Homo sapiens: one gene and its partners. The protein of the gene in region 3 interacts with the protein of the main gene of each other region in a pairwise test. Each region holds a gene or a part of one and is shown on either strand. Other genes may lie near its edges. The genes, in order: LMO7, LIMCH1 and LRIG3.

What was found.
Region 1: the proteins of LRIG3 (region 3) and LMO7 interact in binary tests that used the Homo sapiens proteins (3 or more experiments, as listed by UniProt).
Region 2: the proteins of LRIG3 (region 3) and LIMCH1 interact in binary tests that used the Homo sapiens proteins (3 or more experiments, as listed by UniProt).

What each region holds. Positions count from the first base shown.
Region 1 is NC_000013.11:75,639,330-75,646,329, forward strand, and holds part of LMO7 (LIM domain only protein 7), read left to right. Parts: intron 1-7,000.
Region 2 is NC_000004.12:41,645,512-41,653,791, forward strand, and holds part of LIMCH1 (LIM and calponin homology domains-containing protein 1), read left to right. Parts: intron 1-611; coding exon 612-769; intron 770-973; coding exon 974-1,382; intron 1,383-4,881; coding exon 4,882-5,097; intron 5,098-8,280.
Region 3 is NC_000012.12:58,916,829-58,925,807, forward strand, and holds the start of LRIG3 (leucine-rich repeats and immunoglobulin-like domains protein 3 isoform 2 precursor), read right to left. Parts: upstream 3,677-8,979; 5' UTR 3,408-3,676; coding exon 3,172-3,407; intron 2,678-3,171; exon of another isoform or gene 2,655-2,677; coding exon of another isoform or gene 2,599-2,654; intron 1-2,598. UniProt on the Homo sapiens protein: May play a role in craniofacial and inner ear morphogenesis during embryonic development. May act within the otic vesicle epithelium to control formation of the lateral semicircular canal in the inner ear, possibly by restricting the expression of NTN1.

The DNA of each region.
Region 1 (7,000 bases), on a different chromosome or scaffold from region 3:
GGTGTGTCTACTCATGCTAATTTTGCAATTCAAAGCAAATGTAGGAAAGCTACCCTTTAAGATCGCTCAACATAATGATATTGGATTATTACATAGTTGGAAAGGCTGTTTGATACATTAATAATGTAGCAGGGCTGGTTTATGATTAAACACTGGTTTAAAACCAAGTAATGGTTTCAAGGCAAAGGCAGAGGAGAAGCTTGATTCTAGCAAGGCTACGCAGTGGCTGATGAAGTGGTGGAAAATACAGCCTGGACTCTAATTTTAGGCCTCTTCTGCAGTACCTTTTAATTTTCTATGCCTAATAGTTGCCTTTGTCTCTCTGTTGTGGGTCATCCGAAAGCCATGTGGTAAACAGACAAAATACTAATGAGATTGAAACTGGGGTATGTAGCACTTTGCATTGGTTGGTCAGTTTTTTAGTCTGTAAGTTAATGTTGCTCTCTAGATTGAGGTTCAAATACAATAGTAATTTTTATGGCTGGAGCAGAACAGGCTAACTTAATTCACCACCTTTCTGCTCACCTGCCCTTCCTGTTATCTCTGGATTGGATTTTTTCAGTATTGCTGTCACCCTGTAAGGGATGCCAACCTGAGCTCATTGCCAAGTCTGGCACTAGAATATGAGTCCTTCCTCACTTCTAATTGGTCTGTTTCTCCACCTGCCCCAAGTTTTATCCTTCGGGGATGTGCTGTTCACCACCTTTTAACTTTTTTGCCTTTGGTGCTAATGGAAGTATTTTTAGTAATTATATATAATTTCAATCAACAGATATTAAGACACTATGGTAAATATTTGTTAAAAATTGTAGTGTTACAAAGCAATTCTTATGCTAGCTGCAGCAGCTAGCATAAGAATTGCTTTGTAATACAATTTTTAACAAAGATTTACCATAGTGATTACAGGTGTGAGCCACCGCACCTGGCCTGGGCTCTGCTATTTAAATCCTGTAGGTCTCAGTTTTTTCCTCTTAATCTCCCCTGGTAGTTGTACCAGTTAAATGGATGCTGATGGTAGAGCAACAAATGCTCCCTAATCCATTGCTTGTGTTTCTCCTTGCACAGAATGCAGTTTTGTCACCTCCATGTTTTCGTATGAATGGAATACTTGTTATTCCTTGTAACCTAGTGAACACCTCTTCATTCTTCCATACTTGAGCTAAAATCAACCTTTATGTGAAGCCTTCCCAAAATCGCCAAACCTCCAGCCCCACCCATTCCTTTCTCTCCTGTCTTACATAAATCTCTCTTTTTGCATTGTGTGGTTCTATTCGTTTTTCTATATTAGTCTATGAGCTAACTGAGGGCAGGAATCGTATCTTATTTATTGCTTGAGTGTTTGGCATGGTGCCTGCTAAATGCTTGTTGAATAAAAGTACAAATAAAGTTATAGCTTTAACAACATTAAAAAATAGGATTTTAAGGACCAGAACTCATTTCTTCTTCCAGCAGAAACTTGCTTCAGTGTCTTAAGCTTTATTGGTTGCAGTTGTTTGGTTGGAACCTGCTACAGGATGTGTCTTCATCTGCATGCCAGTGTGTACTTGTTTATTTACTTAGCATTTCCTCTTCTGCCTCAACCCTCTTCCCGAGTCACCTTACTCTACTGCCGTCCACTTGATGATTTCCCTCATGGGGACTTACATTTAGTCATCTCAAAAATACCTACTATGTGCCTACTGTGTGCCAGAAACTTGACGGGTTTATAGATTCAGTCACCAAATTCTTAGCCCTTACCTGGACCTTCAAAGAGAGGCAGCCTCCATGAAAAGCAGATGTGCAGACAAACCCAGCAGTGCCATCAGGTACTGAAGTTCATCCGGTGCATCGTGATGGCATTGAGGAGGCAGCCTGAGTCCACCTGGTCAGTCAGGGCAAGCACACAGAGAAGGCAGCATTTGAGCCGAGGCTGCAGTGGGGTTAACCCATCTGCCCACTAGGCTGGAACATTTTGGCCTTTTTTAACTTGTCGTGTGTGAAATCTTGAAGTTGCAGACAGCATAGCTTCCAGAAGTTGCTCAGAGTAATTTATTCTTACTGAAGTACCTTACTGAGGTAACGTTTTACCTGCAGTGAAATGCACTGATTTTAAGTATACCATTGTAGGAGTTTTGTCAGACCTATATGCCCAAGTCACCAGAACCCAATCAAGATACAGAATGCTTTTTATCACTCAAGAGAGTTCCTTCCAGAGAGCACATTAATCTCCATTTCTTTGGTAAGCATCCACTCTTTGATTTCTAGTACTATGGATTTCTCAAGGTAGGTTTGAATGGCCAAGAAATGTCTTAATGCCTATTTGTTTCTTTTTTCCTCTCACTTTTTCTTTTACTTTTGTTTTCTGAGACAGGAACTCACTCTGTTGCCCAGGCTGGAGTGCAGTGCTGTGATCTTGGCTCACTGCAACCTTCGCCTCCTGGATTTAAGTGATTCTCCTGTCTCAGCCTCCCGAGTAGCTGGGAGTGTACCACCATGCCTGGCTAACTTTTGTATTTCTTTTTTTTTTTTTTGGTAGAGACAGGGTTTCACTGTATTGCTCAGGCTGGTCTCAAACTCCTGGCCTCAAGTGATCTGCCAGCCTTGGCCTCCTAAAGTGCTGGGATTACAGGGCGTGAGCCACCACACCCGGCCCCATTTTTTTCTTTATGCAGTGTTTTATAATTTCTTGAACACAGCATCTTTATATGGGAAATAAGAAAGGATCCTAGAAAAGAGAGGGGTGGCAAGAGATGAGGGAATTAATGAAGTCCTCTTGGGAAGGAACTGATTTACACAAATAGGAACCAGGGCAGGAATGCCGTTAGAATAGCCTGACTCCAGGAAGTGTAAACAGATATGTCAAAGTATTTCCTGAGGAACTGGGAGGGTTCCAGTGCAGTGTCAATCATTCTGGATTCTTCCAACGTACTGATGCACTGAAAGCTAGAAATGGACTTCTTTCATAAAGTGAGGAAAAATACAAAGAACTTGTACCTTTAGTAAAACAGGGTGTCAGCCAGACATGGTGGCTCATGCCTGTAATCCCAGCACTTTGGGAGGCTAAGGAGGGAGGATGGCTTGAGGCCAGGAATTTAAGACCAGCCTAGTCAACATAGCAAGACCCCATCTCTACCAAAAAAAAAAAAAAAAAAAAAAAGGTGGCACACACCTGCATTCTTGGCTGCTTGGGAGGCTGAGGTGGGAGGATCGCCTGAGTCTGGGCAGTTGAGGTTGTGGTGAGCCGTAACTGTGCCACTGCACTCCAGCCTGGGTGACAGAGTAAGACTCTATCTTTAAAAAGTAAATAAATAAATAAATAAATAGAGTATTCTTGAACCAGTTAGAGAAGTGGACCCACTGGGTGAAAAAAACGGTTCTTGATACACATTATAAAGATACCCTCTAAAACCTTTGTGGCAGTTTGCAGAATGAGCAGGGGTTGAGGGCACCATTTTCTCCACATTCTGGCCCAAATTAGAAATTGTTATTTGTATTTTCCCTCTAAATGAACAGATGAAAGACATGTTGTCCTATTTTTTCTCAGATTATTAGTGATATTAAACATTTATGTAACAAATGACCCATTGGGTTTCCTCCAGTGAGGAAGGATGAAGCTGAGAAAAGGAGGGTTCTATTTCCTCTTAAGCCACAAAAGGTTCAATGAAGTCACAATTGGCCCTTGCGAAGAAGCCTTGAAACCTTGGTGTTTCTTAAGCCATTTGTAAAGCACAAATCCTTAAAACTTCTCCTAGGCTTAGAGAAAGAGGAATGGTGTCCTGGATTGGACCCCAGGGAGTATGCCGATTTATTCAATCTGTGTTGGTTCTTGTCTTTCGGTGCATTGCTCTAGCTCTCTTTCTCTCTGGATGCCGAGAGTGCTTTGGGTAGTGAGGGACTGCTGTTGAGACTAAACACTCCTTCACCTTCCCTCTTCCTGTTAAGACTGGTTCTCAACATACCAGCATTTGAGTTATAGAAACACACTAGCTTTGTGAATGCTAGTTAAGAAAAGCAAAGTGACATCAACATATTTGCCCAATCCTTTTAGTTTGGAAGAAATACACCTTGCAGGTGAACTCGTTCTTCTAGTTAGCATCTGCTGATTGAGTTGTTTATGTTGTTCCTGTTCCCCAGAGTTCCTGACAGAATGTTCCCAAATACTTGTTGAATGAATGAATGTTTTGTGTCCAATAAAAAGGTTGGCCTATTTAATTGATGTTTCCAGATCTCCTTAAGCCTGTTAACTATCAAAAATGTGTTAGAGCCTGAGGAAATGAGGAATTATGCATACCTGTACTTAACTCTTTAGTTTCAGAAGGTATTAAATAATTATTGGTTGTATATCTTTGAAAACATGTTTGATGTAGTCAAAGCTCTTAATAGGGATAATAGCTGTCATATATGCACAACTTTGAAACAGAGGTTTAACACATTCAATCTGTGGCTTTGCTTAAAGAGATGGACAATAGCAAGTTCTACTCTGGTGAATTACAGCACAGTCCCATGAACAGCCTTTCCAAAGATTATGAAATACCCCAGTAGTATGCTCAAAGACTGGTTCTCATTACTGGGTACAGAATGCTCAGTTTGGTGCTTGAGTGCATTTTTATGTTGGTATACAGCACCTGACCCTCTGTCTGTCTTCAAGCATAATGGGGATTGTCATGTAGGAGAGATTAGGAAATTTTTGTATGGATTCAGAGGGCAGAACTGGTAATAACTGGTCACAGTGAGACTTTTGACTCAGTATTCTGAAGATCTTTCTATGAATATAGCAGTGCCCTACACTACATGAGCTGACTTGAATAGCGAGTTACCTGCTAGTGAAGTGTTTTTTTTTTAAGAGAAGCTGAAAAAATGACAATAAAAGCAGCTAGTATTCTTGAATTTCTACCACATGCATGACATGTGGCAAGTGCATTATACCCACATATCTTATAATGGACTATTCTTACTGAGGATGTTCTTTTCCAATGAGGGAAAAGAGGGGTGAGAGGTAAAATAATTTACTCAAGGAAACACTAGAAGTAGTAAATGCTGGCTGAGGATCCGAATGCCCACAGCCTGCCATCTTAGTCATTATACTCTGCTGCCTGGGAGTGGCGCTGGCCAGGTAGTTCATCATTGTTAAGGAATTAAGAATCAGAAAAGAATGGGCTCTCCGTCCTTGTTCCACCTAAAGCTGTAAGATTAGCTATTTTTTGTACATGACAAATCCTATACAACTTCCGCTCACCAGCACAAGTTATTTCTTGTGATGTTAGTGCCGTATTAGTACATGATCATCAAATATATGTAAGTTACAGAATTGCCAACAGATATATTTTTTTCTTTTTTAGAGACAGGGTCTTGCTCTGTTGCCCAGGCTGGAGTGCAGTGGTATGATCATAGCTCACTGCAGCCTTGAACTCCCGTGCTCAAGCTGTCTTCCTGCCTCAGCCTCTGGAACAGCTGGGAGACTATAGGCACACACCACCACACCCAGATAATTTAAAAATTTTGTTGTAGGGACAAGGTCTCGCTTTGTTTCCTAAGCTGGCCTTGAACTCCTGGCTTCAAGCGATCCTCCCACCTTGGCCTCCCAACCTGTTGGGATTACAGGTGTGAGCCACCATGCCCAGCCAGATGGACACTGTTGAGCAATTGCCGACTTTAGGTTTATATATTTGAATGTATGTTAGTGATTGTTAATGTTCAATAAACCATTTAAAGTGTTAAAAAAGGAAACATTTTAATATAACATTGAGTTATACTTTGAGCTAGAATAGGAAATAGATATCTAAGTAGTTTCTTCTATAATTTATAAAAGTATCATCTTCTCTCATGTGACCTACATTTCTGTAGTTCGTGCATACCAGAAATTGTACAGATGGTTATTGTATAGTGCTTCAAAAATACATGTCATGTTTTTGATTAGGATACTTTTTAGTTAGTGTTTTAGGCTTGTTAGTACCAAAGCTGGGACCCTGATAAAATTTTTTTGCCTCCTTGACTAGATTGAAATTTGATCTAGATGTGTGAACAGGGAAAGAAATATCTGAGTTATTTTGTTATACCACCATTTCATAACATTCAAAGGAAGGGAGGTCATTGCCAGTCTCATTATAAACTTTCATTCTGGCTTGACCCAGAAGTTTGAGGCTGCGGTGAGCTATGATTGTACCACTGCACTCTAGCCTGTATGACAGAGCGAGACCCTATCTCAAAAATAAATAAATAAATAAAATTAAATAAATAAAGGAAGTTCATTGTGGAATTAGTTTTTCTCATGAGATTTAATGTTTTAATGTTTTTCATTTTACATGAAGAAGGGGACAATAAGCAAACGTATTGCCTCTGGACCAGTATCAAATGCATTTGGAATTTACCCTGTGTTATGAAGAAAATATTGTCAGTCTATCAAAAGCATCAGATAGAGTTGGTGATGACTTCCTTCTCAAACCCTTCATTGCCCTCTAGGTTTTTCTTCCATTTCACTTGGTGTTTCTAATTTTTCTGTGCTCAGTCCTCCTAATTATTGTTCATCAGTGAATGTTAGAACATCCAAGGACTCATCTTCCATGTCTTCTTTTCTTTGCCTACAGTATCTTTCTAGCAGATGTTATCAAGTTCATATATCTTCTCCACGCTGATTGCTTCCATATTTACATTCCTGACCCTGACCTTGTCCCTAAATTTTAGTAACTACTTGAGATTTCCCACTGTAGGTCTGATAAGCATGTCACGCTCAGTGGGTTCTAAGCAAAACTCTTAGTACTACCCCTTTCCCACCCCTTCCTAATCATCTCCTCATCTCTCCAATGTTTCTATCTTAGCAAATGGCATCATTGTTCAGCCAGTTGCTCAGGCTTCCAAATTTGAAGTCATTATTGACTCTTGTTCTTTTTTAACATCATACCACACATCCAATCTGTGAAGAAATCCAACAGGCTATATCTTCAAATGGATCCAGAATCTGACCACCTCTTGCCACATCCACCATCACCTTTCACCTATGCTGTTGCAGTAGCCTGGACTCCTT
Region 2 (8,280 bases), on a different chromosome or scaffold from region 3:
AAGCATGGAAAAGACAGAGCTGGGATTATTTCCCACAGCTGCAACCCCAACCATCTGCCTCCAGAATCCTCACTCTTCATCATTATGCTATAACTACCTGTAGGATTGTGGTGAGGTTGTTGTAAGGATCAGATGAATTAATACATATAGAATCACCAGATCTAAAGACTCCAAAACAGTTTTTTTTCTGCCTTGACTGCCTTCCATGTGGAAACTGTAAATGAATCCCTACTATTCTATTGTCAGCAAATCTGTTCACAATGCAGAGGTTATAAATAGGAAGGAATGAAGTTTCTTACAGTTACCTTGTGAGGCAATTCTCTGAAATTTGGCAACTGACATGAAATGTGATTGCATATTTCACACTGCCATATTTAAATAAATGTGCAGCCCTGCTATGGATACTGTAGATAATATCTGGATGTTTCTGCCTTTGAGGCATTCCAGTTCCAACCAGACTTACATTGGATTGTGTGGGAATGCACACGATGTTATAGTGCCTGGGCCCATAGTCAGTTCTCTAAAGAGTAGAAATGACTAAACTCTGAAGAATAGAAATGGAATTATGCACAAGTCTGAAGAAGAATATTATATCTTTCTTTCCCTGCCAGGACCTGGCTCGTTGGAAGAGTCGTAGAAGAAGTGTTTCTCAGGACTTAATCAAGAAAGAGGAAGAAAGGAAAAAAATGGAGAAGTTACTGGCTGGAGAAGATGGGACAAGTGAACGAAGGAAAAGCATCAAAACCTACAGAGAAATTGTTCAAGAAAAGTGAGTTCTTTCTGTTGTCGTTTTTAATGTACAATATTATCTAGGTGTTTTTTTTTTCTAAAAATTATTGGCTGTCACAAAGGTTCTGATAGTAACATTTTATATTCCCTGTACTATCTCTTCAGTGCTACCTTCGTTTCTACCAAGGTCTTCTTTGCAATTTTCATTAGTTGACTTTGTTATTGCTTCTCCCATGTCCTTTAGAGAGCGGAGAGAGAGAGAGCTGCATGAAGCATATAAGAACGCTCGGTCCCAGGAGGAGGCAGAGGGGATCCTTCAACAGTACATTGAGAGGTTCACCATCAGTGAGGCTGTTCTCGAACGCTTGGAGATGCCAAAAATTCTGGAAAGAAGCCATTCAACAGAGCCAAATTTATCCTCCTTCCTGAATGACCCCAATCCCATGAAATACCTGCGGCAACAGTCACTGCCTCCACCCAAATTCACTGCCACTGTTGAAACCACCATTGCTCGTGCCAGTGTTCTGGATACCAGCATGTCAGCAGGCAGTGGGTCTCCAAGCAAAACTGTCACTCCCAAAGCAGTGCCTATGCTGACACCCAAGCCTTACTCCCAGCCCAAAAATTCTCAAGATGTTCTGAAGACCTTTAAGGTAGGACAAGTTCCTTAAGAGTAGAACCAAAGCTGAACTCCAGGGAGTGGATGGAAAGAAGCATCATGACTCAAGAAAATGTCATTCTTTTTACCATACAAAAGAAAAATGTGTTGACATTTACAGCTGTGAAAGTCATAGGTCTCTGGAGATTTGGTTTGTAAATGCTTCAGGGACAGCTGTTTCCCTCAATTGCTGTTGTTAATACAGATGGACTCCTATAAGACTGATAGTGGAGTCGTCTCCATGAGCAAGGTCTATTTTCTAGTTTGATATAATGGCATGATTTCTCTGTACTAGTGGTAAAAACCCTAATTTAGTAATACCCTAGTATTTCTAGGTATCAGGAGGTATGGCAGACTCCTCAAAACAAAATTTTATTTGCTTTTGGTTCAAATAGAAGTATATGCAGCTACCTCTCTTTTAGGAAGAAATTGGCATTCAGCATCCATTTGACATTGTAGCATCCAAAAAGATTTTACAATTGATAAAAATACAAGGAACACATGGGAACATGGGACATACTTGGTCCTCAAATGAGACAGGTTTTTTAAACAAGTGGAAAGAAACTGGGTTGTTTTGCTAATGAGTGTGTAAAATAGTGTTCCAGACTGAAGAACTTGTGGAAACCAAACATCTTTTCGCTTCCTCAAATTCAAGTACTTTCTCTTATATCAGGAGGAAGCACTCATCCTTTGTCTTAAGTTCTTTTGACTTGTAAAGAAAAATCAGTTCCCCTTGTCCTTGCACTCAATGAGTTTGTAATAAACAGAGGTGGAATGCATCACTTGGAGATGTGACCATTAGATAGAAAAGTTTTCGTAACTGATTGAGCAGTGTGATGCCACGTAGCTTCCTTGCTGTATTTCAAAGAGAACAAAACCACACTTTCTGACTTTTGCTGAAATAACTCTGAATGTATCTCAAAAATCTCTATCTTAGGCTTTGATAGAACAAAAATGTCCAGACTGTCTCATCTGGATCACATTGAGCTGTTTGTCCCCTTATAAGGGCAGGGGCCATGTCTCTGTCATTCATGGCTTCATCCTGAGAGCCTGGCACAGGTGCCCAGGACAGAGTAGGCACTCAGCAAGTGCTCCTTAAATAAATAAGTGAATTTTTCCTGAGAAGATGAGCTACTAATCATATGGACTCACACACACACAGATAGACACACACATGCTCATGTGTGCTCAGTGGTCCACCTAAGTGTTTCAGAAGCTTTCCTTCACCTAGGGCCTATGATAATGAATGGCTATGGTATTTCCTGAAGGAAGATTCTATGTTGAGGTGGCCCAGAATAGGATAGAGAATACATTTATTTAACTGGATTTCCAAGGCATCTGACCAAACATTCTAGATGTCCACTTTCCCTCCTTTATCTAAATAGTGCAAAGTGATCGTTTAAACAGAAGGATTAGCATAAATGATTTTATGGCAGAACTTCAGCTCTGAGAAAACTCTGTTCTTCACCATGGCGGCAAAGTGGAGCAAGGTGGTATGGCGGCCTCAGGAAGCACTTCCATGGAGGGGGTTATTAGAGAATTTGAGCAGAGGCCCTCTTAGAGCTGGAGATTACTCCTCATCACTCACTAGTGGGGGTCCCCTGCCTCATTGTAGGCCTCACTGGCTAGTATTTCTACTGATGGCCTACAGTTCCATTACTGAGTGCATGGACAGCAACTTTGGTCAAAGGTCAAAGTAACATGCAAATCAGACCGTTGTTACCAGCTAATAATGCCAGGACAGAAGCTAAGGGGTAGGGGTGTGTGTGTGTGTGTGTGTGTGTGTGTGTGTGTGTGTGTGTCTTCTTGGAGGGCAGGGCAGGGAATACAGGCCCCGTTGTTTTTCCAGTACAACAGAATTAAGAATAAAGGAAGATCAAGAGAAATAGTTTAAGGCAGTGTTTTTCAAACTGAAAGTTACCACCCGTTGCTAGGTTATAAAATCAGTTTAGTGGTTTGAAGCCAATATAAAAAAAAAAGAACTAGAATAGAATATAATAAAAAAACATAGTGTGTCACACAATGAAGGCAAAATTGCTTGGGGCAACTTCTGTTTCAGTTATATTTATGTGTGTGTGTGTGTGCTGAGTTGTGATTTAAATTTCTTTTTATGGGTAACAAATAATAGAGTAAAAAGACCAGTGGCTTAAGGTAAATAAACTATAACTAATATCCAGCCTTCCATTATTTCTTTTAAAAGATTTTAAAAGGCCTAATGAGGCTGGGCGAGGTGGCTCACACCTGTAATGCCAGCACTTTGGGAGGCCGAGGCAGGCAGATCACTTGAGACCAGGAGTTCGAGACCAGTCTGGACAACATGATGAAACCCTGTCTCTACTAAAAATACAAAAATTAACCAGCCATGTTGGCATACGCCTGTAATCCCATCTACTTGGGAGGCTGAGGCATGAGAATTGCTTGAACCAGGAAGGTGGAGGCTGCAGTGAGCTGAGATTACACCACTCCACTCCAGCCTGGGTGACAGAGTGAGACCCCGTCTCAAAAAATAAATAAATACATAAATAAGAGGCCTAATGATAATAATGGCTAATAGTTAAGCACTTAAAATGTGTCAGGTACTGTTCTAAATTCTGTACATTTGATAATCCATAAAATCTCCATAACAGCACTATGAGGAAGATACTGTTACTTTAAATTTTGCATCAGAGCACAGAGAATAGGAAACCTGTTGAAGATTCCATGCCTGTTAAATGGTAGAGCCAGGTTTCAATCAGGTCACCTAACTGCACAGCTCCCTCTCAAAACCACTCTACTTTCTGCCTCAAATTTCAAGACCGAGATTTCCAGATGCCTTTCAGTAAGCCAGGCTAACCGCCCTCTCTGGTTTCCCTTTCTTGCTCCAACTGCCTCCCCTCGATGTGAGTGCAAAACAAAAATATTTTAATGTGCATGGTCTTTTTTTCTTTAAAAAATGGAGGTTATAAAAGTAACTAGAAATAGAGATTCACTGTAACAGAGCATAGTCTCAGATCCCTTGCCCTCTGCCTTAGCTTCAAAAAAAGTATCTGTTTCCCCTGCTACCACCATGGGATAAGCTGTAAAATATTCCTGATCTGTGGTAAGTTCCGCCTCATTTATATGCTATCCAGAAAAACAGTCAAGGTTGTGGAATAGCAATCAGAACTGAAGTGAAACAGTATTGGAACCCCAATATGTGGCATGTATTTGTACTTAAGATTCTTCGGTTTTCTGTACTTTAAAATAAAAGCAGACCATAAATGAGGTGAACATGAAATGGAATCTATAGTGAAGTGGCCCAAGCAGGCCAACTACCTTTTAAGGAGGCCCTCAAAGATAGCATTTATAGAAGCCCTAACTCATAGATCCCATCAGAACATTTAAGAGACCTCTTCCTTCATTGGACTCTGGTTATTAAATGATGATCTTTTGAGGTAATTCTGAACGTGTCGTTTTGTTACAGTCTTTGATTGGGGTATATATAGCATGTTTTTTGTTCATTCTGGCTTTTATAGGTAGACGGGAAAGTCAGTGTGAATGGAGAGACGGTTCATAGAGAGGAGGAGAAGGAAAGAGAGTGTCCCACGGTGGCACCTGCCCACTCCTTAACCAAATCCCAGATGTTTGAAGGTGTGGCCAGAGTGCACGGGTCTCCACTGGAGCTGAAACAAGACAACGGTAGCATCGAGATCAACATAAAGAAGCCAAACTCTGTTCCCCAAGAGCTCGCAGTAAGAACCAAACATTTCCCCGCCTCCCTTTGGGATAATTCCATGGTGAAAGAATCTGTTTTTAAAAATAAGTAGGTCATGATAATGACCATTTCTTTCTATGTTGGCGTATTAGTTTGCTAGGGCTGCTGTAAGTACCACAAACTCAGTGGCTTAAACAACAGAAACTGTCTCACAGTCCTGGTAGCTAGAAGTCCAAAACCAAGGTGTTGGCAGGGTTGGCTCCCTCCATTGGTCATGAGAGAGCATCTGTTCCAGGTCTCTCTCCTAGCCTCTGGTGGCTGCTGGCAATCTTGATGTTCCTGGGCTTATGGATGTGTCATCCCCCTCTCTGCCTTTGTCTTCACTGGTGTTCTCCCTGTGGATGTGTCTGTATTCAGATTTCCCTATTTTATTTTATTTTATTTTATTTTTCGAGATGGAAATTCGCTCTTTTTGCCTAGGCTGGAGTGTAATGGTGCGATCTTGGCTCACTGCAACCTCTGCCTCCAGGCTTCAAGCAATTCTCCTGCCTCATCCTCCCAAGTAACTGGGACTACAGGCATGCACAAGTGCACCCAGCTAATTTTGTATTTTTAGTAGAGACAGGTTTCACCATGTTGGCCAGGCTGGTCTTGAGCTCCTGACCTCAAGTGATCCACCCACCTCAGCCTCCCAAAAGTGCTGGGATTACAGGCATGAGCTACCACACCCAGCCTAATTTCCCCTTTTTAGAAGAACACCAGTCATACTGAGTAGGTCCACCCTTCTCCCTTGTGACCTCATCTTAACTAATCACATCTGCAGCAGCCCTATTTCCAAAGGTCACTTTCTGAGTAGTAAGGGTTAGGACTTCAATAATATGAATTTTGGGAGACACAATTCAACCTGTATCATTGGTATAATGGAAGGTATTACAATTTATGAGCCAGAAATTACTTTTTCTTGTCTCACTATTGGTGTCCAGTGTTATAGAAGAATAAGTAAATCTTTAAAATACCTTTTCCCCCCCTGTTTATTTAGGACCTCATTAGACTTGTTAATGCCATTTGAAAATAACTGGTGCTATCAGAATCTAGCTTTCCATCCCCGGCGATGTATATATAAAAGGGCCTTTTTCTTATTAGTTAAAGAAACAAAAATTCATTTAAAAGCTGAAAGTAATGTAAAGCATCAGAGTACTATTGAATGGCAAAGCTAAAAAATGTATGCTAATTCAGGTACTGCAGAAAAGTGAACTCAAAATAACATGATATTTGTTTCTTTGGAGTAGAAGACATCATTGGGAAAATTGCACTTTCTTCCATCTCTCACCAGAAAGACTCATGCTGGTTTCACTAATCTAACCGAAACTGTCACTACACAGATGCAGCCCTGCTTTCGGGGTACGGGCTGGACTCTGTTCAACCTCATTTGTACTCACCAGAGGCTGAGTTTCTGCTGTTCTAATTTATAGCATTTGGGTTTATATTATAGTTACAAGAAGGGAAAAACTATCAAGATATTTTCCCCCAGGACCTAGAAAGGTTTGGTGTGAAAGGAAACTTCTTCCGGCACCAAGGGAGCTGAGCGTTGTGTGACCCAGCTAGCTAAAACCCACCTAGAAGGCTGGATATCATTATTTTTTTCCTTTATGATTAGTCTTTTGAAGACTAAAATTATTTTTTTTTTCAGAGGAGTTGAGAAGATATAATTCTTCCACGCAGTACCCAAGTGCTCTGTGAAAGAGATTCAAATGGGAGTAGACCAAAATCATTTTCTCACCATGGTAACACGTTTCCTAGTCTCTAGGAGCAGAGTTTTGTGATCCAGGCCACTGCGGAGTCTCTCCTGAACTTGGACTTCCTGGACTTCCATTTTACTTGTCATTTGCATACGTCTTACCTCTGCTAGAGATTTCTTGCAGATGATCACGAGACAGAATATTGAGTTCTGCTAGCAGTGTGAGAACTTAACTGATAGAGTAAACATTAACTTATGCTGTTAAAATTAAACTAGAAGACCCCAAATTAATTAGACATAGGGGTGGCATTGCTTTTCAGGGACAATTAATAATTCTGTTCTTATTTCTCTTTTGCCATTTTTCATGATGATCGTTTTCTAAATTCCCTTCATTAAAAAGATTTCACATTGATTACATATCCCCCAAAGTAACTTGTTTTAAGAGAAGCAAAATTACACGATCTGAAAGAAACTATGCTATTTCAAAAGTTTATACATGATCACATGGAGAAGGATGGCCTTCAGGACTTTCTTCCTAGAAACCAGCCTGATCCTGGTTGCCTAAGGATGCAGGTCTAAACTCAGAAAAGCCTGGGAGTCTTTTCCTTTTGTGTATTTCTTCCTTGGAGAAATTGCCTAGTTCAGAGTAATTTCTAGGTCAGTGAACCCTAATGTTTCTGAACAGGTAGTAGTATTTATGGACCCTGTCTATAGTACTTTAGGCTTTTGAATCAACTATGGCAGGGGGTATTGCATTACTTTCTGTGTGGGAAAATCTCTGTATATATCTGTCAGACTATAAGCTAAGTTGTTAGCTGTACTACATAGGACTGTGGCTCATTACTCAAATACTCATCATACTCACATGCAACTTAGGATACCACAAGTTTTCCATTCAGAGTGTGTTATCCCAAGAGTCATTTTAAAAGAATCACTTCTCCAGTAAACCTACTCCCCATTTTACTTCTTTGTGCATGATTCCAAGCAAAGCATTTCTTGACTGTGTTACAGCCGGTATACTCCTGTTAAAAAAAAAAAAAAAGGAATTAATTGGTCATGGCAAAATATGGTGACCAGCTTAGAACAGGAGGCTGCACTTCAGGGCCTCCCAGAGACTGACACCAGCTTGGACTTCATTTTCTGTTTCTAATTCACTTGCCTGATTCTGTGGGGCTGTCAAAAGATTAGTGTTCTTCTTTTTAAATAGTGTCTTTCTTCCAAAAACTGCATTCCCAACAGATACACTCTCTACAGAGGAGTAGCTTCACCCACCACTAAAATGTCACAATTCCTTTAGGGTGAGCTAGAACTGTTCAAAGGGCACAGCAGCAGCAGTAGGCAGGAGCATGAATTCAGGAATGGAGGGAGAACAACAGAGAAGGGCGGCCCGAGACCTGCTGGGGGAAGGGATTGCGTGTGGAGCGTCAGCATCTGGGCCCGGGACGGGCACTATGGATGACATCATATCATCTCTTTGGTTTC
Region 3 (8,979 bases):
TGAAAATAATCAATTTGCAACATTTGGTTCAAGCTGTCATTTTCTTCCTTTTAGCATTTGGAAATCTGACTTCCAAGTCAAATTTTAAATGCAAATCCAGCACAGCTTCTTAAGCAATCCCACTGGGGCCTGCAGAGCTGCTAATTCAGCACAAATCTGGAAAGCTGAAAAACAAAAAGCCAGGCTATAGCTGTTTTAAGACACTGATCCAAAGTGACTCATAAATCAGCCTGCTATATTCAAGTTTTAGTCTGGAAAATACAGAAAAACAGCTGTGAAAACCATAAGGACTATTACCCCCACCCCACCCCCAACTGTGGTCCGGACCATAAGATTTATAACAGGTCAACACTAAAGAAGTCACACCAGCAGAAACTACCTTTGGGACTTTCGCCTGGGTCCTGTTGAGAACTCAAACATTTCTACATAAGACAAATAATTCTGAAATGCCAGTGAGAATTTAATAATACTGGAAGTTCTCATTGGCAATTTAGCAACTTTTCCGTCTCTGGGCTAAATAACATTCTAACAAGCATTCCTCTTTAGGTTGAGAACTGTTTAAGCGCAAACTCTTGACATAAACTCTAGCTTGCCTTTAATGGCAGTTGTGAGCAAGGCTTGGCGTAGTTACTGGGTTGTTTTTTTTTAGACAAAGTCTCGCTCACATAGTTACTCTTTAAGAGCCACTTTCATTAAAGCATTAGAGGTTATTTTCTAAAAGGAGTACTGATACAGTATTATTATTTTACAGCTCAAACTATTCGACTTTTCACACATGGGACTCCTATAGTAATAAATCACAACCAAATAAAGTGGAAAAAATACATACACACGTAATTTTTCTTAAACTTGCAAATTCAACAAATGAAACAAAAGATAGACACTGAACTTTTTCTGAAAAGTGCTTTCATAAGCCAGTCCAAAGACAAACTCCTACTATTTTGATTACCCAAGGAAAGGGAAGGTAAGATATGGGGAACAAAAACATGCATTTTTCTATTTATATCTGAACTCGGAAATCATCTCCTTAAGACGATTTTTCTAATTACGAAAAACTTTAGTAGCTTTTTAGACCACCTATTCTAAAATACCAAATAACAGAGAAAGTAAAACTCAATTCCACGTGTTTTTCTGCTCCTTTCAAAAGTGGAAAGAGGAGACCTCTAGAGCTTTAGGTACAAACAAAAGAAATATTTACAATAAAGAATCCAGACCACATGGTTTGGTGACACCTACAAAGATGGTTAAAAGTCACAGAAGTACAGGAATGACAGAGCTGTCCAATAAGTGATCACAGCAGGGTTCCTGACAACAGACTGAGTGCTTATTTATACAAGTGGAACTTATTTTCACATACATTTAAGGAATGTGGGCTAGTATTGAGACAATTTACTGCTGGTGGAAATGTAATTAAAGACTGTGCTAACCAAATAAACTCTAATTTGTTTTTAGTGTGCCACCAAATTATCTGCAAAACAAAATCCTAATTAGGTCAGCTACTTTTAAGACAATGTTTAAATAGGTATCGAACCCCTTTTGGTTCAACTCAACTTCTGATCAAGGGCAACACAGATTTTTTTTCTAAACATCTAAATCCAGGAAAAAAGAAAAAAAGTACTGCACACTAGCATGATCACAATAGACAACTTGACATTGAAAAACTATCGAATACAAGTTAGATGCCGTGAATAATCTAAGCATATCTAAATACACTCCAGGAAGCACTGTATTCATTTTCTCTTTCTCATCCCTCTATTATTCCTAAGTGTTCACCTCCAGTCATTTACATGTTCAGTTCCATATGTTGTCAATAGAGCCATTCACTCATGAATAAGGCAGCATGACCTCCACAAGAGGCAATTTAACAGAATTAGCCACAACTAATTGAAAGTCTCCCTGCTTTCGGTTAAAGACCTTATCTCCTCTTCCAATTGCAATAAAAACTACTAAATAAAACGTCCCAAGAAATTAAATATCAATCCAATACTAATTCTACTTTATTAAACTAAGGCTTATTAAAAACACAAGGAATATACTTTCTGATGGCCAACAATTCTACATTCACAAAAGTTATTTAGATTAGCACAATAATTTTAAAATATAAATTCTTAAACACCTGACCAAACCTCCTACCACATTAGGGCATTGGAATAGTTCACTAGAATTGTTTTAAAAACTTAAAATTTTCATTGCAATTCTGCTAAGTCAAAATATAAGATTACGTATGAAGTGCACTTTTATTTTAAACAGAACAACTACTTTAAAAAATACAAATTTTGATTGTTTACTTTTTACAGCACTCCAATTTTAAAACTGGGACTGAGGAAGAAAAGAGATGACATTTGGAAAAGATCAGCATTTCCAACTAAATTACATTTTCTTCCTTGTTCTTCACGCAGTTGGCAGTGATTTCAGGTTTTCAGACTTCGCAGCTAAAAATCCAAAAACTTGCATAAGAGCTCCCTGCGCTCTCCCCTAAACCGTCTGGGCGTTCTGAGGAGCTACAGAAATCACGCCCTTGATTCTGGATAATCGAGTTCCGCCCTTTCCATAGCTACCGACCAGTCTTTACAATCTGGTTGAGGAGTGGGAACTTACGGTCTGCTAATGTGAAAAAGCAAGCAGAGGGAGAACAACAGAAGTACGTCCACCATAACTTGGAGAATGACCGAATTCTGTTGAGGGGGCTTCCCAAATGAAAAGCCTGACTTCAGTTACTGGGTGGGAACAGGAAAAGGAGTCTGACGCAGCTAGAAACTAAAACTGAACCAGACTCATAACTCAGCGAGAACTGCAAACTCCTGATGTGTGCAGGTTGCCGCTTATCTCCCCTGGGCCTGGCAGGAGCAAGCATTTGAACCCCTTGGCTAGCTTAGGGCGCAGGACTTCATCCCCAATCTCTGGCGTCGTTACTGGCCCCCAACCCTGGTCTACCTGCAGCCAGTTAGGACGCGCCAAGAGCCCACCTGCGCCGCCCGCAAAGCACGTGGGAGGGAAACTGAGGCCCGGACAGTTCTTTTTCCACGCCCACGGAGCGCCGATCGCGGCCTGGGCCAGAAGGAGCTATACGGCAAAAAGGGGACTGCACGCCGAACCCCATTCCCCGCCGGCTCCTGTTTTCTCGAATCTCCAGCGGCCCGGGCCCCCTCCCCCCGCGGGAAGAATACTTACAGCCGAGCGACCCAGGACGGGAGTGGCTCGGGAAGACGCGCTAGCCGCTTACGACTGCAGTCCAGCAGGTCCCCGAGGCAGCGGCAGGTAGTGGGGCATGGGCGCTCGGCGGCTACCCCAGAGGGCTGCCCGAGTTCCCCGCGACCGCCGCTGTCTGACCGGCCAGCGCGCCCCAGCACCGCGCACAGCAGCAGCCCCAACCCCGCGGCGCGCGCACGGAGGCTCGGCGCGCTCATCGCGGTCCAGCGGCCTAGGTCTCTACCCGAAGCTCCCAGCCGGCGCGCGCTCGGGGCCCGGCACAAACTTCCAGCCGAGGGTGCACGCCCGCCCTCGCGGTCGCGTGCGCGCTCCTCCCTCGCGCTGCCCGGTCAATTCCTTCTTTTACTCCCGGCGGCGAAGCCCTTTCATGCCCCCAAACAGCAGGAGGGAAACCGAAAAGAACTGCCAACTGCAACAGAGTTGCAGCTTGAGCAGCGTCGGCTCGCCGAAGCCCCTTCTTGTCTGCAAAAGAAACTTTTTCGCCTCCACCCCGCGGCACTGCGCCAAGTCCCCGCGCGGCGGAGTAGCAAGGCGGGCGGGTAGAGGCCGACGCGCGCCCATTGGCCGACTCGGCTGCGGGCGTCCCCGTGGCCACGTGACAATAACACCGCTCCAGCCGGGGGCCTACGCGCGGGAGAAAGTGGAGCTGAGATTGTAGGAAATTCAGAGTTATATTTTCCAGCCTCTCCAGCCAGAAGTCTCCACTACGTCGTGGGAAACATATATCAAATGGAGTTGAAAGGCAAAAGGAAGTGAGCAAATACTGGGCTAGTTCTCGGAGTTGGAGGTATTTAGGAGAACTTCAGGGAAGTAAAGTTTAATTAGCAGTGTTTTCAGGAAACTTTTCAATTCCAAATTAAAGACACTGATAAATTATCCTACCATCCACAGATGAAAGAGTGGTTTCAATGAAAACAGCTCTTTCAACGTTAATGCTGGTGGGTGTTCCCCCATACATCGGCTTCAAAAGTAAAAACAATAATAAAACGTAAAACTCGTGGTTTTGGAAAGTGTATATTGAATTACAAATAGCCAGCCTTCGTGCACTGGATAAAGCTGGGCGGGGTGGGGGATGGGAGATGACCTTCTAATAGACCTCGATGGCAATCATAGATTCCTGGTAATAGTAATAATAAAAGTAGTCACAGTGACATTTCAAAGTAAAATGAAAACTAAGACCTTGGAGGAAAAAATTAGTATATGCACCTTGGTCCACTTGCGCTTTGAGTAATGACACATGTTGATTGAGAATGCTACCAGGGTAAAAGTACCTCCCGGCCTCCTCAGCTGGGGGAGTGGATGTTTGGGGCTGGATTCAGGCTACAGGACTTCCCAGTGAAGTTTGTTCCTTAACTTACAGGTGATCAGCGCCACAAGATGTTGAAACTAATGGAGACCGCAGAGATCATGTGCTAAGGGGCCTTCCTCCTCTGGGTAAGGAAATAGACCTAGAGAACGTAACTAATGTGTTTGTTGCAAAAAAAATAAAAATAAAAGCAAGACAGAAAACATGAACAAACCAAAAAACAAACCCTGGAAGCTTAAAGTAAGTTTTCACTTCTATACATTGTTTATTGCATGCTGTCTGCCCAAGCTTGTCTGTCCTTGGAGTTGCGTAAACTGCTCATGATTGAGGAGTGGAGATAGCTTGTGGAGTTGAGACTTTAACCCTGACTCTAAGGCCCATTGATTTTTCACTGTAGCAAATCACTCCCACTTACGGGGGAAGGAAAAGACTCACTTTGAAGTTAACACACCCTATTTTAGATATGGTATCCCATTTTCTTATTTCCAGCTACCATTAACAACAACGCTACTACCTTTTTGGATGATGTATAATTATAATTAGAAAATATCTATAATGATGGCACCTTGGTTTTGAATTTATGATTTTGTCTGCTTGGGAGTAGACAAAACACACTACAGTCATAGTAAGGATTTTCCAGCTCAGTATCCCCCATCTATTTTTATTTATTTTTTTTATTTTTTTATTTTTGAGATGGAGACACTCCAGTCTGTCACCCAGGCTGGAGTGGGGTGCAGTGATGCGATGTCGGCTCGCTGCAACCTCTACCCCCTGGGTTCAAGCAATTATCCTGCTTCAGCCTCCCAAGTAGCTGGGATTACAGGTGCCCACCACCACACCCGGCTAATTTTTTTGTATTTTTAGTGGAGACAGGGTTTCACCATGTTGGCCAAGCTGGTTTCTAACTCCTGACCTCAGGCTATCCGCCCGCTTTGGCCTCCCAAAGTGTTGGGATTACAGGCGTGAGCCACCACACCCGGCCCCCCATCTATTTCATACAAGGAAAATTAGGTATAATTCATTGAAGTTTTTAAAAAGAAGAAAGATTCCATTGTACACATGCCATTATGCATAAGCAAGGTAACATCAGTATGGAGGCTTGCTCTTGAGACATGAGACATATGACAGGGATATAAATGTGCTACCATTTTGGGGAGTTTTGGCTCATTTCCTTTTCTCATTCTTTATTCTCCTTGTATAATTTCATCTTCTTCCATGAATTCCATTTACATTTACATGCTGACATATACAACATCCATATTTCAGCCCAGGTCTTTTTCCTAAACTCGAAATCCATATGTGCAATTACCCACAGGTCATTAAAAATTGGATGTTCAAATGTAACATGTCTAGAATTAAATTTCACCACCCTTGAAACTGACTTGTTTCCTCCTGAATTCACTGTCTTAAAGAGTGGATACTTCCCTCCATCCAGATGAATGCCCCAGAAACCTGAAAGTCACCTTAACATTACTTCATTCTCACCACCACCACCACCACCACCAGAGTCAATCAATTAGCAAGTCATGTTAAAGCTAGCTCCTAAATGTATCTTCTCTCTGTAGAAATTATGCAAATCCAGACCACCAGCAGCTCTTGCCACCTATCAGGCATTCCACTGCTTTCTCCTCAGGGCAGTTAAGTGATATCTCTGAAGGTCAAATCTGAGCCTGTGACTCAACTGACCAGTTCTTTTCTTGGGTTCCTAGTGTCTTGAGAATAAGGTTCAAATTCTTTAGAGTGACTTATACAGTTTTGTTTGTTTGTTTTGGCATTGAGCCTCTATTTATCTCTTTAATTCATTGTCTTTCATCATTTTTCTCCTACTCTAGGAGCTACTTGCAATTCTCTTCCCAGCTGTACTCTTGCCTTCAGCCCTCTTGCAAATGGTTCTTCTGTCCAAATCATTCTCTGCTCCTTCTTCTGCCTGGTTGATGGCATTCCTTCTTTGGCAAACACTTCCCTGAGTCAGGTTTAACTATCTATACCTCCAGTATACTTCCAGCACATCAGTATTGACTGGAATGTAATAGACCATTTTCACTCTAACCCCCAGGTAATACTACAGAATTTTCCGATAACCATGTATTCCTTATCGCCTTTAAGGGTTTTACCAGCTATTGTGAAGTTAAATTACCTAAGTTTTCAGTACCCCAGTTTCTCAGTCTGTAAATTGGGAATACAATAAAAAACGATCTTATCTGGCTGGCTTCCATTTATCAGTTACTGGATTAGCAGTCACTCTGTTCTCTCTGTACAACCTGACTGATGCCTATGACCAGCTGAAATCTAGAAACTACCAGCCTCTCCTTAGAACAGCCTTTGCATATTTGCTCCTACCTGTCAGGTGCTGATCCACAGTAGTTACAGACTTGTTTATATATATTATTAATGTTACACAATATTGTGTAAACCAAATACAAGTGCAACAAGAAAATACCTTTATTTCTATGATAATGAATTTGAAGGTTGGGAAAGATTCTTTAAAGGTAATCGATAAAACAATGCTATCCAATTAGATGAAGATAAGACAGTTGTAAATATGGGAGGAGGAGATTACAAATATCTAGGAGATTTTTTTGGAAAGGTTACTTTGCAAGTAAGATCTTGTTCCACTTTAATTGTATTTGGGAATTAATCAACAGAGGACGTTTTATGGGTGTGGCTTAAGCTTACTCAGAACTTAATGGGATCATTGAGAGAGTAAAAGAGGATGACATGGAAAGAATACAGCGCACATTAAAAATCACTGTTCTACATTTCGATATGTGCTTAACCATGTGGTCAATACAAAGGGGAACTAGTCCTACATGAAAACTTAATTTTTTTATTTTTATTTTTTTGAGACAGGGTCTCACTCTGTCACCTAGGCTGAAATGCAGTGGCGGGATATTGGCTCACTGCAGCCTCAACTTCCTGGGCTCAGGCGATCCTCCCACTTCAGCCTCCTGAATAGCTGGGACCACAGGCGCATGCCACCATACCAGTCTAATTTTTGTATTTTTAATATATGTATATATAGATATATATATATATAGAGAGAGAGAGATGGCGTTTAACCATGTTGTCCAGTCTGGTCTCGAACTCCTGGGCTCAAGAAATCCATCTACTCGTTTCGGCATCCCAAAGTGCTGGAATTACAGGCATGAGCCACCTGCCTGGCTGAAACTTTACATCAATGTAATATTTTCACAGGCTTCTCAAACCTTTCATGAACCACAGGGCAGAGAGAACTTCCACTGGGTATCCATCTGGGCAGATGAGAACTAATATCTTTTGAGGTCCCTTACAGCTCTGTTCTGATTCCTTTACAGTATATAGAAAATAGGCGTGAAGGCAGAGTGACAGCAAAGATAGTTGTAATAGAGGAAGAAGAGGTACATAAAATTCTGTTTAATCTCCCAAAATGTATCAGGGAATAACAGTGACCTAGAAACAGGATTAATGTATCACTGAATTCTCTGATACTCTTATGATGTCATTTTCTTGTATACACACACACACACACACACACACACACACACAGAGGACACAGTGCTATCAAATGTTGAATCTCAGTTTTTGTGGATAATGGCTTACAAATAAGAATTTAGTATGAGAAAGTCAAATTCATTTTGACCAGAGGTCTTTTAACATTTGAAATAAAATGAGATAAGATGTTGGATTTCTCTACTCCTTCAGAGGTTTACACTGGTTAACCAGGTAGTTGGAAGTTAGCTTTCCATTGGAAATTGCTGAGATCACACCAGACAGTTTCTCGTTTCCAGCTGTGTCCCAGTGAATGGCAAGTTTCATCCATTTTCAAAAGGGTCTCCTACCACCCATTTTGTGGTGAGCATAACCCAATCCCAGTGCTCTTTTTAGTTTTCCTGGTCTTTTTTCTTTCTCTGGCAAGTGTGAGACTTTCTTATCTTGAGTGCTGGCAAGGCCAGTGACTCACCGATAAAAAGTAATAGAGGTGCTAAACTGTCAGTTTTAACATCCAAGGACAAGAATGAAAGCTAAACACTCAGTACTTGCTTTATCATTACAATGAATGACACAGTTTGTGTAAGTGGGAGCTGTGAAAAGGGAAAAGAGATAAGGCAAAGGAGGAAGAAAAGCACAAAAATCCCCAGATAATGATGCCAAAAGCAAATGTTGCTGTACTTTGTAACTTAACCATATCTTTTCCCATTCATTAAGGCATTTTAGAAGAAATAGATAACCTTCCTTTCTCTCTCTCTCTCTCACACACACATACAAACACACAAAATGCACAGCTTCACTTAGAGAGCAGATTACTTTACACAACCCCTGCTATGAACATGTCTTAACTTTCAGAAAATATTTAGAAAAATAAAGATAGCCACCCATCTGTTTTTCTCAAGTTGGCCAACTGTGTGATATTATTTGAATTGAAAACAAACAGTGTTATCTCAACTGCAAATTAATATATGCTATTTTGTATTTTACTCATTTCC